2 separate regions of the Homo sapiens genome follow, and region 1 is linked to region 2. The links come from fine-mapping of genetic effects on gene expression. A gene starts in region 2. The other region holds a variant in brackets. All regions are shown on one strand. Distances are from middle to middle.

Region 1 (5,373 bases), 27 kb after region 2:
GATATTTCCCCATAGAAGATATTCAAATGGCCAATAAACACATGAAAAGACGCTCAACATCATTAGTCATTACAGAAGGTCAAATTAAGACCACAACGAAATACTCTTTACACCCATTAGAATGGCTATAATTAAAAAAAAAAAAAAGACTATCCCAAGTGTTGGTGAGGACGTGGAGGAATCGGAACCCTCACACATTGCTGGTGGGAATGGACCATGGTGCAGCCACTTTGGAACTAGTCTGTCAGCTTCTTAAAAGTTAAGCATAACTTTATATGATATAGCAATTGTAATTTTCCGGTTCCGTCCATAAGAAATGAAAACTTGGCTGGGCGCGGTGGTTCACGCCTGTATTCCTAGCACTTTGGGAGGCTGAAGTGGGCAGATCACCTGAGATCAGGAGTTCGAGACCAGCCTGACCAACATGGAGAAACCCCGTCTCTACTAAAAAAATACAAACTTAGCTGGGTGTGGGTGGGTGCCTGTAATCCCAGCTACTTGGGAGGCTGAGGCAGCAGAACTGCTTTAACCCGGGAGGTGGAGGTTGCGGTGAGCTGAGATCACGCCACTGCACTCCAGCCTGGGCAAAAAGAGCAAAACTCCATCTCAAAAAAAAAAAAAAAAAAAAAAAAGAAATGAAAACTTAAGCTTACTCAAAGACTTGTATGTGACCATTCACAGCAGCATCAATATTATAAGAGCCCCAAAGTGGCAGCAACCCAAGTGTTCAATATTTAAGTGGAAAAAAAAAAACACCCAGATACAAAAGAGTCTATGCTGTCTATTTCCATTTTCACATGAAAAGTCAAAAAAAAGACAAATCTATTGAGCAGAAAGTAGATTAGTGTTTGCCTGGGGCTGGGAGTGGGAACAGACAGTGACTGCTAATAGGCACAAGGTTTCTTTTTAGGTTGATGGAAATATTCTAAAATTAGATTTCAGTGATTGTTAAACCTCTGCAAAATTTACTAAAAAGTCATTGAATTGTACACTTAGACAAATTTTATGGTATGCTAATTATGCCTCAATAAAGTTGTTAAAAAATAGATATATTTTTAGACCATAGCAGGTCTTCAAAGGGAAATAATTAAGAAATTTTTGGAGACAGCTTCTAACCTTCTGACAGGGAGGTGACAGAGAAAGTGTGGAAAAGGCCAATCTGACTGGGCATGGTGGCTCACACCTGTAATGTGGCTCCCAGCACTTTGGGAGGCCGAGGTGGGAGGATTGCTTGAACCCAGGAGTTTGAGACCAGCCTGGGCAACATAATGAGACCCCATCTTTACCCAAAACAAAATTCAGCTGGGCTTGGTGTTGTGCACCTGTAGTCCCAGCTACTCAGGAGACTGAGGGGAAAGGATCACTTGAGACCAGGAGGTCGAGGCTGCAGTGAGCTATGACGGCACACTGCAGTCCAGCCTGGGTGGCAGAGCCAGACTCTGTTTCAAAATAAAGAAATAAATATAAAACAAAAGCCCAATCTTTGGACCACAGCCAGGGATTGAGTTGCCACTCGGTCACTTGTTTGGTAAGTCAATTAAGTTTTCTTGGCCTCAGTTTCTTCATTTGTAAAATGGGGACAATAACATCTACCTCCTAGAGTACTTTTGGGAATTAAAAAGGGGTAATAAAAAGGTTTAGCAGGATGCCTAGTACAGAGATTATACACTCATACATGCTAGTTCCTTCTAAGGGGGTCACAACTAAGCCTTAACCTCATTGGTGAGACTTTATTTCTGGGGGCAAGTGGGATTAATTAATTCAGCAAACATCTCTTGAGCAAGTGCCTTGCATCAGATCCTGCCTTGGGTGGAATATGAAGATGAACAAGACTCAGTCTGTGCCCTCAAGAAGCCCAGCATCCAGAGTGGTGACAGTCATTTGCAAGGCAGTTACACTACTGAGAAGGATACAGAATAGGATTAGGGGAGAGGGCTCCAGCCAATCTGGAAGGAGAGTGGTGAGGTTAGGAGGGCTTCTAGAAGAGGAGTTGCTTGTGTGCTTGGAGGGTACACAGGAGGGAGGTGGACATCCCAGGCTATGGCAACAGCTTCCACCAGCCCAGCTCAGC[C/T]CACTTTACCTCTCAGAGCATATGATGAAGGAGCGGGAAGAGAATCTCAGACCCTTGGGTTGGAAGGAACCTGTCAAGGCCATCTTGCCTAATCACTCTGCTTACCAGGGCCTGGACTTCAAAGGCTTTCAGTAAAGGAAGAAGCTGCTCTTTAACTCAAGGTCCCTTTGAAGAGGAATCTGTCGACAGCAATACTTCGTGACTTGCACAGAGAGTTGCAGACAAGTTTCAGGAGATCCGGAGTCGTGGGGGAATCACTCAGGATGCATGGACCAGCCTTGGTTGGGGGGAAGTAGAGACGGATGAGGGATTCTGAGTTTGTGAGTCAGTTCTTGCCCATTGATCTTGGGCAAGAGGCTTTGGCAGCAGTTCCCAGTGTCCCAACCTAGGTGGTGGTCAGGAACCCACCCCAGAATGCCCACTGGATGTAGAGAAGAAAAAGAATTAGAATCTACTGGGCCCCTGCTATAGGCTTCTACATTGTGTCAAAGATTTTTGCTAGGGACTTTATATGAGTTCTCCATGAGGTGAGAATTTTCATCCTCATTTGACCTGAGAGCATCCTGGCGCTCAGAATTGAAGCAACTTGCACAAGGTCACAGAGCTAGAAAGGAGTAGGACAGGATTCGAGTTCAGCTCTGCTCTCCCCAAAGTGCTTGCTGCTTCTCATTCTATGCAACACCCTGCTTGCCCCAATCACACGCAACACCTAACAAGCCAGATCTCTGACATACTGGTGCAACTGGTACCTTTGGGAATTCCATATTCACATTATTTTAAAAAGAGATCTTTCTCATAATAATTTATCATATTTTAAATGAGATTAAAATACAAAAAATTGAAATTGCAACAAAAATAAACATAAAATTAAATCCAATATGTAAAGAAAAGGATAATGCTCATTGGTAGACCCATACTGTATTATGGAGTATATCTTTCCAGACTTCTTCCTAGGCCAGGAACTCTGTTTTTGCATAGTTGATACCATTTTGTATACACCATATTGTGTCCTATTTTTTCCTTCTCAAATTGTATCATAAACATTTCCTTTGCTACTTCAAGTTTCTTGTAAACATTTGGCAACACAATCTTCATTAATCTGAATGAGTTTATTTAACCAAGCTCCTGTACTTGAGGATTTAACTCATTTCCTTTTCCCCCCACAGTACAGCATTTGAAACACCTTCTGGCAGGTGAAGGTGGATGTGGCAGCTCCCTCTGGGTTTGTAGTGGCAAATGCCAACACATCTGGCCCTCACACCAAATGTCCATCTGTCAGGGGAAGGGAGGGTAAAAAAGAGAGCCAAGCACCTGCTTGAAGATTCTTGCGCACTTTCCTGTTCAGTTCCCTCGACAATCTGGGAGATGGACACTGTTCTCCTCATTTCACAGGAGGGGGAAGCCAAGCCTCAGGAGGTCAGTGAGCCAGGTCACAGGATTGGTGCTGAGCAGAGCCACGGTTCTGATTGAGATCAGCCTGAATCTCGGGTCATGCTCCCCTCTCTGCCCCACACTGCTCCCTCATGGGTGTGGCAGGAAGACCACAGGTCTATCCAATGTAATGACTGTTGCTGTCTCCCCTCAAATGGTCACATACAAATTCTGCTGCTTTGTAAGGGGCATTTGACTGGAAAATTCCACAGCCAAGAGCAGTGGCTCCTAAGCCTTTTGTCTGATGAGATGCAAATTCCTGAGGGAAAAATATTTCCGTGTGTCTTTGTACCTGTTCTTACACCCTTTCCATTTGTACCCTCGCAGACTGTTGCTATTCTAGGGCTAACCTTGAACTCACTCTAATGTCTGTGCTTTGTTTTTTGTTTGTTTGTTTGTTTGTTTTTTAACAAAGCAAATAATTTGCATTTTTTGGTATCCTATCTTTGGGGAACCCTCCTGGCGTGTCATAGCACCCAGACTGAGAACCACTGGCCAAGAATAGAGGTGAGAACCAGGAATGAATTTATAAAAGATCTTGGGCTGCCAAAAGTAGCCCTTGAAAATCCCCACACTAAAGCTCCTGCATTTGGATCATAGGAGATGCCCCCAAATCTGTTAAATAAGCACAATATCTGCTGCTGAATATTGCTGTGAGTTAAGCATGAGAATAGGCAATATTTGCAGATTAAAAGGCACTGTAATAAAGAAGAATTATGCTCAGCAGATCTGATTCTTCTCTCCTTCCTGTGCATACAGATGACTACATTTCCCAGACCCCTTTGCAGTCATGTGGGGGTCATGTGACTAGTTCTAGCCAATGGTATGCAAGCAGCTATAATATATGCCACTTCCAGACCAAGACATTTAAAAGCATGTGTGAGTTATTCACACTCTTCCTCACCTGTCTATGAAGACTCTAGAAGTTGGGATAACAGCATCACTCAGGGTCCTTCTACCCATCTGGGACCCTGAGTGACTCTGGGACAGAGCCACCTGCCAACCTGCAGCAGACATATAACATCAGAGAGAAATAAAACTTTATTGCCTTGAGTCCCTGAGATTTCTGGGTTGATCTGTCCCTAGGCTATTCCTGATCGATACACATTCCAAGCACAGGGCCTGGTCTATGGCAGAGGCTTATGCTTTTTCCTTGTCCCCTCCCTCAGTGGCTCAGAGAAGTGTAAGTCACATGCCAATGTAGAAAGGGCAGGTAATGTGGAGAAAACTTCACTGACCTGGAAAGTTCCTTTTGCTCTAAGATGGAGCCTTCTGAAAAGGCCAAGGGCTGTACATTCTCAAGTTCTCTTTGTTTTGTCTTTTTAAAAAAAATTACTTTAAATTCCGGAATACATGTGCAGAATGTGCAGGTTTGTTACATAGGTGTACATGTGCCATGGTGGTTTGCTGCACCTATCAACCCATCATCTAGGTTTTAAGCCCCAAATGCATTAGGTATTTGTCCTAATGCTATCCCTCCCCTTGCCCCCACCCCCCGACAGGTCCCAGTGTGTGATGTTCCCCTCCCTGTGTCAATGTGTTCTCATTGTTCCACTCCCACGTATGAGCGAGAACATGTGGTGTTCGGTTTTCTGTTCCTGTGTTTGTTTGCTGAGAATGATGGCTTCCAGCTTCATCCATGTCCCTGCAAAGGACATGAACTCATTCTTTTTTATGGCTGCATAGTATTCCATGGTGTATATGTGCCACATTTTCTTTATCCAGTTTATCATTGATGGGCATTTGGGTTGGTGCCAAGTCTTTGCTATTGTAAATAGTGCTGCCATTAAAATATGTGTGCATGTGTCTTTGTAGTAAAATGATTTATAATCCTTTGAATATGTACTCAGTAATGGGATTGCTGGGTCAAA
Region 2 (5,373 bases):
GCTCAGAGAGCCAACCCCTCTCCAGAGCAACTAGCGAGGGGCTGCTGGGGTCAACTGGCTCCTAGAATTGTGATTGCAAAAAGACTATGCCCCCTAAGCTTTGGTGGGGTCCCGGTGTATCCCCCCAAGAATTCAGAGTTGAAGCAAGGGCGGTCATCCCTGAAGACATGAATGCCTTCTGCCTTGGAACACCAGCTCCTGGTCCTCTTTTCTGCAGTGGGGCCTCTGCAGCCCATGAAGGGTAAGACTCATCTAAGATCCCTCTCTCCCCAGCTAGGGGAGGAGAAAGGACCGGAATTCACCTCTTGATGGCCACATTCCTGGGTTGCCTGTTTGCCTAGAAATGGCCCCCAGAGGGACGGCTGGCAGTGGAGCCCGGTGGCCCCCAGCTTTGCATGAGGAGCTCAGTTGAGGGACTGCTAGACCCTGGTCTGAGGCAAATCGGGGGTGGGCAAGGTCAGGACGGTGGGCAGGAGGGTGCCCTGCGGGGCCGGGAAACTCCGCAGCTCCTTGGGCACAAACCTGGGTGAGACAGAGTCTGCTAGGAAGCAGAGGGTGCTCCGGCGTCCCACGCAGTAGATGAGGTTGTCCACCACGGCGCACTGGAAGGCATCCGGGTAAGGCGTCCGGTACGTGGCGCACTCGTACCAGAGCCGGGTGCTGGCGCTGCAGCGGTACACGGCGATGCCCAGGCTGCGGTTGAGGTCAAAGCGGTAGAGAAAGCCGTTGACCGCCACCATCTCGGCCGTGCGGTCCTTGCTGCCCCCGGTGGGGCCGGCCCACCAGCGCTGCTCCTGCGCAGAGAAGCGGAACAGCAGGAAGCGCAGCGAGCCGCCGGTGACGAAGATTTCCTTGGCACGCACCGTGGCCGTGTGCGCCAGGGCGAACGTGTCACTGGGGAGCGGCGGGGCAAAGTCCCAGCGGTCCAGGCGGGGGTCGTAACGCTCCACCGAGTTCAGACACTCTCCGCCGATGGCATACAGGTGCCCGTCCAGGGCCACCAGCCGGCAGTGCGGCCGGGCCTGGTTCAGCGGGCACACCTCGCTCCAGATCCCCGTGAGCGGGTTGTAGCAGAAGACGCGGCTGGAGGGCTGGTGCCCGGGCCCCTGGCAGCCGGACACCACGAAGAGATAATTGAAGAGACTGCAGATGGCACAGCCCCGGGACACGGCCTCGGGGGGCATGCGAGCCAGCGGGCGCCAGACATCCTGCTCATCGTCATAGCAACAGAGGCCGCCGGAGTCTTCCTTGGGGCACACGTCAGCCACCACCAGGTACTGGCGGCCCCGGAGCCGGCGCTGCAGGATCAGCTCGCGCTCTGCCCCGCTCAGGCACCCGTAGATGTCCGGGCTGCGCAGCACCTGCAGGTAGTTTTCGCTCATCACCTTGTAGGCCGCCTCTTTCAGGGCCTCCAGGTTCTGCCTCTTGGCCAAGGTCAGCACCTCATAGCAATTGCCCAGATCCAGGCGGACCTGTGGGGCTGAAGCAGGGGTGAGCGGGATATGGAAGAAATTGGTCCCGGCCACCGGCTGCACATGGGGCTCCCGGCTGCTTCTGCCTAAGCCAGGCAGGGCGCCCGGGTCTGGGCAGGGTGGAGCGGGGAGCCGGAAGCCATCTGGCTGCAGCTGCAGCTCTGGGTTCTCCGCTATCTGCAGAAGGCTCTCCTTCCGGCTGAAGCCTCGGGTGGAGGGCCACGGCCCTGTCTGCGGGGAGGCGGCTCTTTCGGCTGCACCCTTTGTGTCACCGGCTTGGCCTCCCGAGGCAGCCCCTGTTCCCAGGGACCCTGGCGGTGGCCTAGGGGATGGAACCTCAGTCAGGGCTGCTGTCCTGGGAGCCAGCCTGCCCTGGAAGATGGCCTGAGAGGTAGATTCCACATAGTAGTCGTACACCTTGCCCTTGAGCCGGGGCTCAACCCCCTCCGCCTTCTGTATGAAATGCTCCTCCATTCGGACGCGGGCTATGGATGAGAAGGTATAGGAGGAGTTGGGGGCGCCCTCCTGCTGATGCAGGGTCAGGTCAACATCGGAGGCAGCCTCGAGAGCCCCAGCCTCTTCTCTGCTGACCCCTATCACACGGGTGAAGACCCAGCTCTGGTTCATGTCACTGCTGCCTTGCAAGGGAGCCACGTAGTGACAGTGGGGAGGTTCTAGTTGCCCCAGTCCTGGATGCTCACGGGGTTTACTGTCCTGCCATGGAGAAGGCTCACCACCGGCACAGCTGCCGTCGGCTGCTGCAATGAGTCCAGCTGGGGAGCTCTTCGGTTCGCTGCCCAAGCGGGGGAAATGGGGAGGGTCAGGGTTACTGCCAACAGCTGTTCTGGTTTCCTGGCTGGGGCAGCAAGGAGGCACCTGCTCAGAGTCCGAGCCCTGCCCGCCCCGCTCCTCACCTGAGCCTTTTCTCTGGGGCTTCCTGTCTGTGGAAGTGGCCCCCGTGACCAGGACATAGGGGCCTCTTGGATTCTCACAGCTGCAGCCCTGTGGTGCTTCAGCCCGCTTGCTGCTCCTCCGACGTCTTGGCCCCCTCAGGAGCACCCCAGGAGAAGCCTCCTGTACAGCAGGCTGCCCTGAGCCCTCTGCTTCCTCCTTGGCTTCTGCCTGGCCATTCCCACCCCACCGCTGGGCTGGGGCAGGCCTCGACTTGTACAGCCTGTAGGCCACAGTCACCAGGAGCAGGGCAGCGGCTGACAGCACCACCTTGCCGGTCAGCTGCATATCCAAATGCCAGTCCTGGGCCTCTGCTCCTCTGGGGAACATGCTTCTCCAGCCAACCTGGGGCTGAGGAATGTCAAGAATCTGATTAATAATTGCCCAGTAGGGACCAGTTCCTGGGTCCTGCTGAGCGGAGGGGAGGGAGTTCTGGGCTGGTTCTGGCTGGCCAGCCGAGGAGAGGAGAGGAGCAAAGGTGACTTTGAGCTGCAGAGGGTGGCCGCTGGGGCCCAGAGCTGGCAGATCCCAGCGGCTGGCCTCCTTCCATGCTTCCCTGGTGGCTGGGGTGGGGGGCCCGCCCAGGGGCTGAGCTTGTGATCAGCCACCTAAGCCAGCTCTGTGGTCAGCAGCTAGGGGATGTTAGGAGTATCCAGTGGGCATACAAAAGAGGAGGAAGCTCTTAACCAAACAGTCACCCGATGCCAGGAAATGCATGGGGTTGGTTATTCTTTATGTGTGTGCTTTATTTTCTCTTTTGCAAGTCCACTGGGCTCAGAGGCTTGGGTGTGGTGAGTCATGGGCAGGTGGAGCCCCAGTAGGCGTGGATGGGGTCATTCTTGTGAGGTCTGCTGGTCCTCACAGTGGGGTCAACTTTATGCTGGCCAAGCAGGGAACGGGAACATGGCAGTGGAGTCTGGAGCCAGGGCATGCAGCCAAGCCACCTGAGCCGGCCCTTGAGTGCCTCTGCCCTCCTTCCCTGCCTGACAAGTTTATTAAGAAAAACCAGCCTTTCTGAGAACAGTGGAGAAAGACATTGCATTAGTGCTCAGATCGGGGTTAGATGTGGACACATCTTCTCTTTTAAAACCAGACAATCTCCTACGGTGAAAGATTGAGGGAAGACTCACGTCTCCCAGACCCCCCCTCACCATTTCCCCTCCCCCATCACCAGTGCTGTGGGTCCTGGACCCAGACTACCTGGCTCTGCTACTTACCAACTATATGACCTTAGGCAAGAGACCTCACCGCTCTGTGCTTTGTCTGAAAAAGGAGGATGACAGCATACGCACCTCATCAGCTTGTGGGGAGAACTAAATGGGCTACTAGGAATAAACACTGGGGCAGAGCCCCCATCATGAAAGCTTAGTAAATATGAACTATTCTCTGCTTCTTCCTCCTTTTCCTCTTTCTGATCATCGGCACCATCATCGCTAGTATCAATTGTCATCAGAGGACCTTCCAAAGCACAGAACTAATTCTACCCTTCTCCTGACCAAGGTCCTCAAAGAGTCCCCAAAGTCCTGTGCAGGGGTCTCAAACTCTTGCTGCATATGGAGGCTGGGTAGGTAAAGTGAACAAGTAAGGACGTCTGTCCGCCCCACCCCAGCCGATGGTATCAGGCCCAGCATTGCCTCATCCTCCCACTGTCGCAAAAAGCTTAGAATCCCAGTAGTGACATAATCACTCTCAATTTTAAAATGTTGGCATCTGATTCAAAAATGAAACTGAAAAACACTGTGGGCCACAGGAAGCACACGCATGGGAGGAATTTGGCTCTGAAGGCTTTGACTCTAGGAGACAATCCTGACTCCCTATGCCGACGTTCACAACTCTCTGTGTACCAGCTTCGGTTTACTCTTCCAGATGCATCTCCTGATCACTGCCTAGCAAACCGGGCTCAGGGTGACTTCTTGGCAGGGAAGGCTGGTGGACATCCCTCTGGCCCATCAGAGTTGGGTAAAAGGCTGTGTCTGGGCCTTCTTCCCTGGTGCCTTCATCCGTCCAAGATCACCTTTTCTTCCTTTGGGTCTCGTGTTCTCTGATGCTCCTCTTTTAGGCTTGGCCACAGCTGCTGCATCGTAAAGTGCATTGTGTGCAAGATCTGGTCTGCTGCATTCTAAGTCCTTGAGGACAGAGGCTGTAGCTGGCTCAGCTGTGGACCCTAAGCCTATGTGGGGCCCTGCACCATTTGGGACAATAGCCAGCAGGGATTGTCTTTACACTGAGTGGATTGGGGTGAACACTCGGGATGAAGCTCATCTCATCTCGTCTCATGCTCACAGCCCCTTTGGGGAGAGACACGATTGTTATCCCCATTTGACAGCAGCGGTAACTGGACCTCCAAGATTATGTCAACTGGCTTGTAAATGGGGACTCAAAACCTTGTTTGCAGAGTCCAGAGTTTTACAGACCTGACTTCATCCAGCAGGTGTGACCTCTTAGAAAGTCAGGTGTCCTCAGCCTGTCCCACTGGTAGCTGTCAAGAGGGGTCCCCTGAATTCTCTTTCTTTCCATCCTGGTCAAAAGAGTGCCTATCAATGCAATGTGCACAAGGATCACAAGGGGTGCTTGTTAGAGATGCAGCTTGCCTGCCTGCCTGCCTGCCTGCCTGCCTGCCTGCCTGCCTGCCTGCCTGCCTTCCTTCCTTCCTTCCTTCCTTCCTTCCTTCCTCCCTCCCTCCCTTCTTTCCTCCCTCCCTTCTTTCCTCCCTCCCTCCCTCCCTTCCCTTCCCTCCCTCCCTCCCTTCCTTCCTTCCCTCCTTCTTAACTCTCTCTCTCTCTCTCCCTTTCTCCCTTTCTTTCTTTTTCTCTTTCTTTTTTGAGACAGAGTGTCACCCAGGCTGGAGTGCAATGGCACAATCTCAGCTCACTGCAACCTCTGTCTCCAGGGTTCAAACGATTCTCCTGCCTTAGCCTCCCGAGTAGGTGGGATTACAGGCATGCACCAC

Evidence for each region. PIP is the estimated chance that this variant, and not a neighbour inherited with it, causes the effect. A credible set is the group of variants that fine-mapping cannot tell apart.
Region 1: its variant is the best candidate, but not a certain one, in a credible set for the expression of KLHDC7A in whole blood (TOPMed, PIP 0.52).

The regions. Positions count from the first base shown.
Region 1 is chr1:18,451,691-18,457,063 of GRCh38, reverse strand. No RefSeq gene overlaps it. Among named protein-coding and RNA genes, the nearest start is that of KLHDC7A, 27 kb to the left of the region's middle. The variant C/T (reference allele first, on the strand shown) is at 2,072.
Region 2 is chr1:18,478,362-18,483,734 of GRCh38, reverse strand. It overlaps KLHDC7A (kelch domain containing 7A), which reads right to left and starts at 2,805. Exons shown (of 1, transcript NM_152375.3): 1 at 1-2,805. The coding sequence starts at 2,753. The coding sequence ends at 420. RefSeq lists enhancers at 1,983-2,854, 2,855-3,727.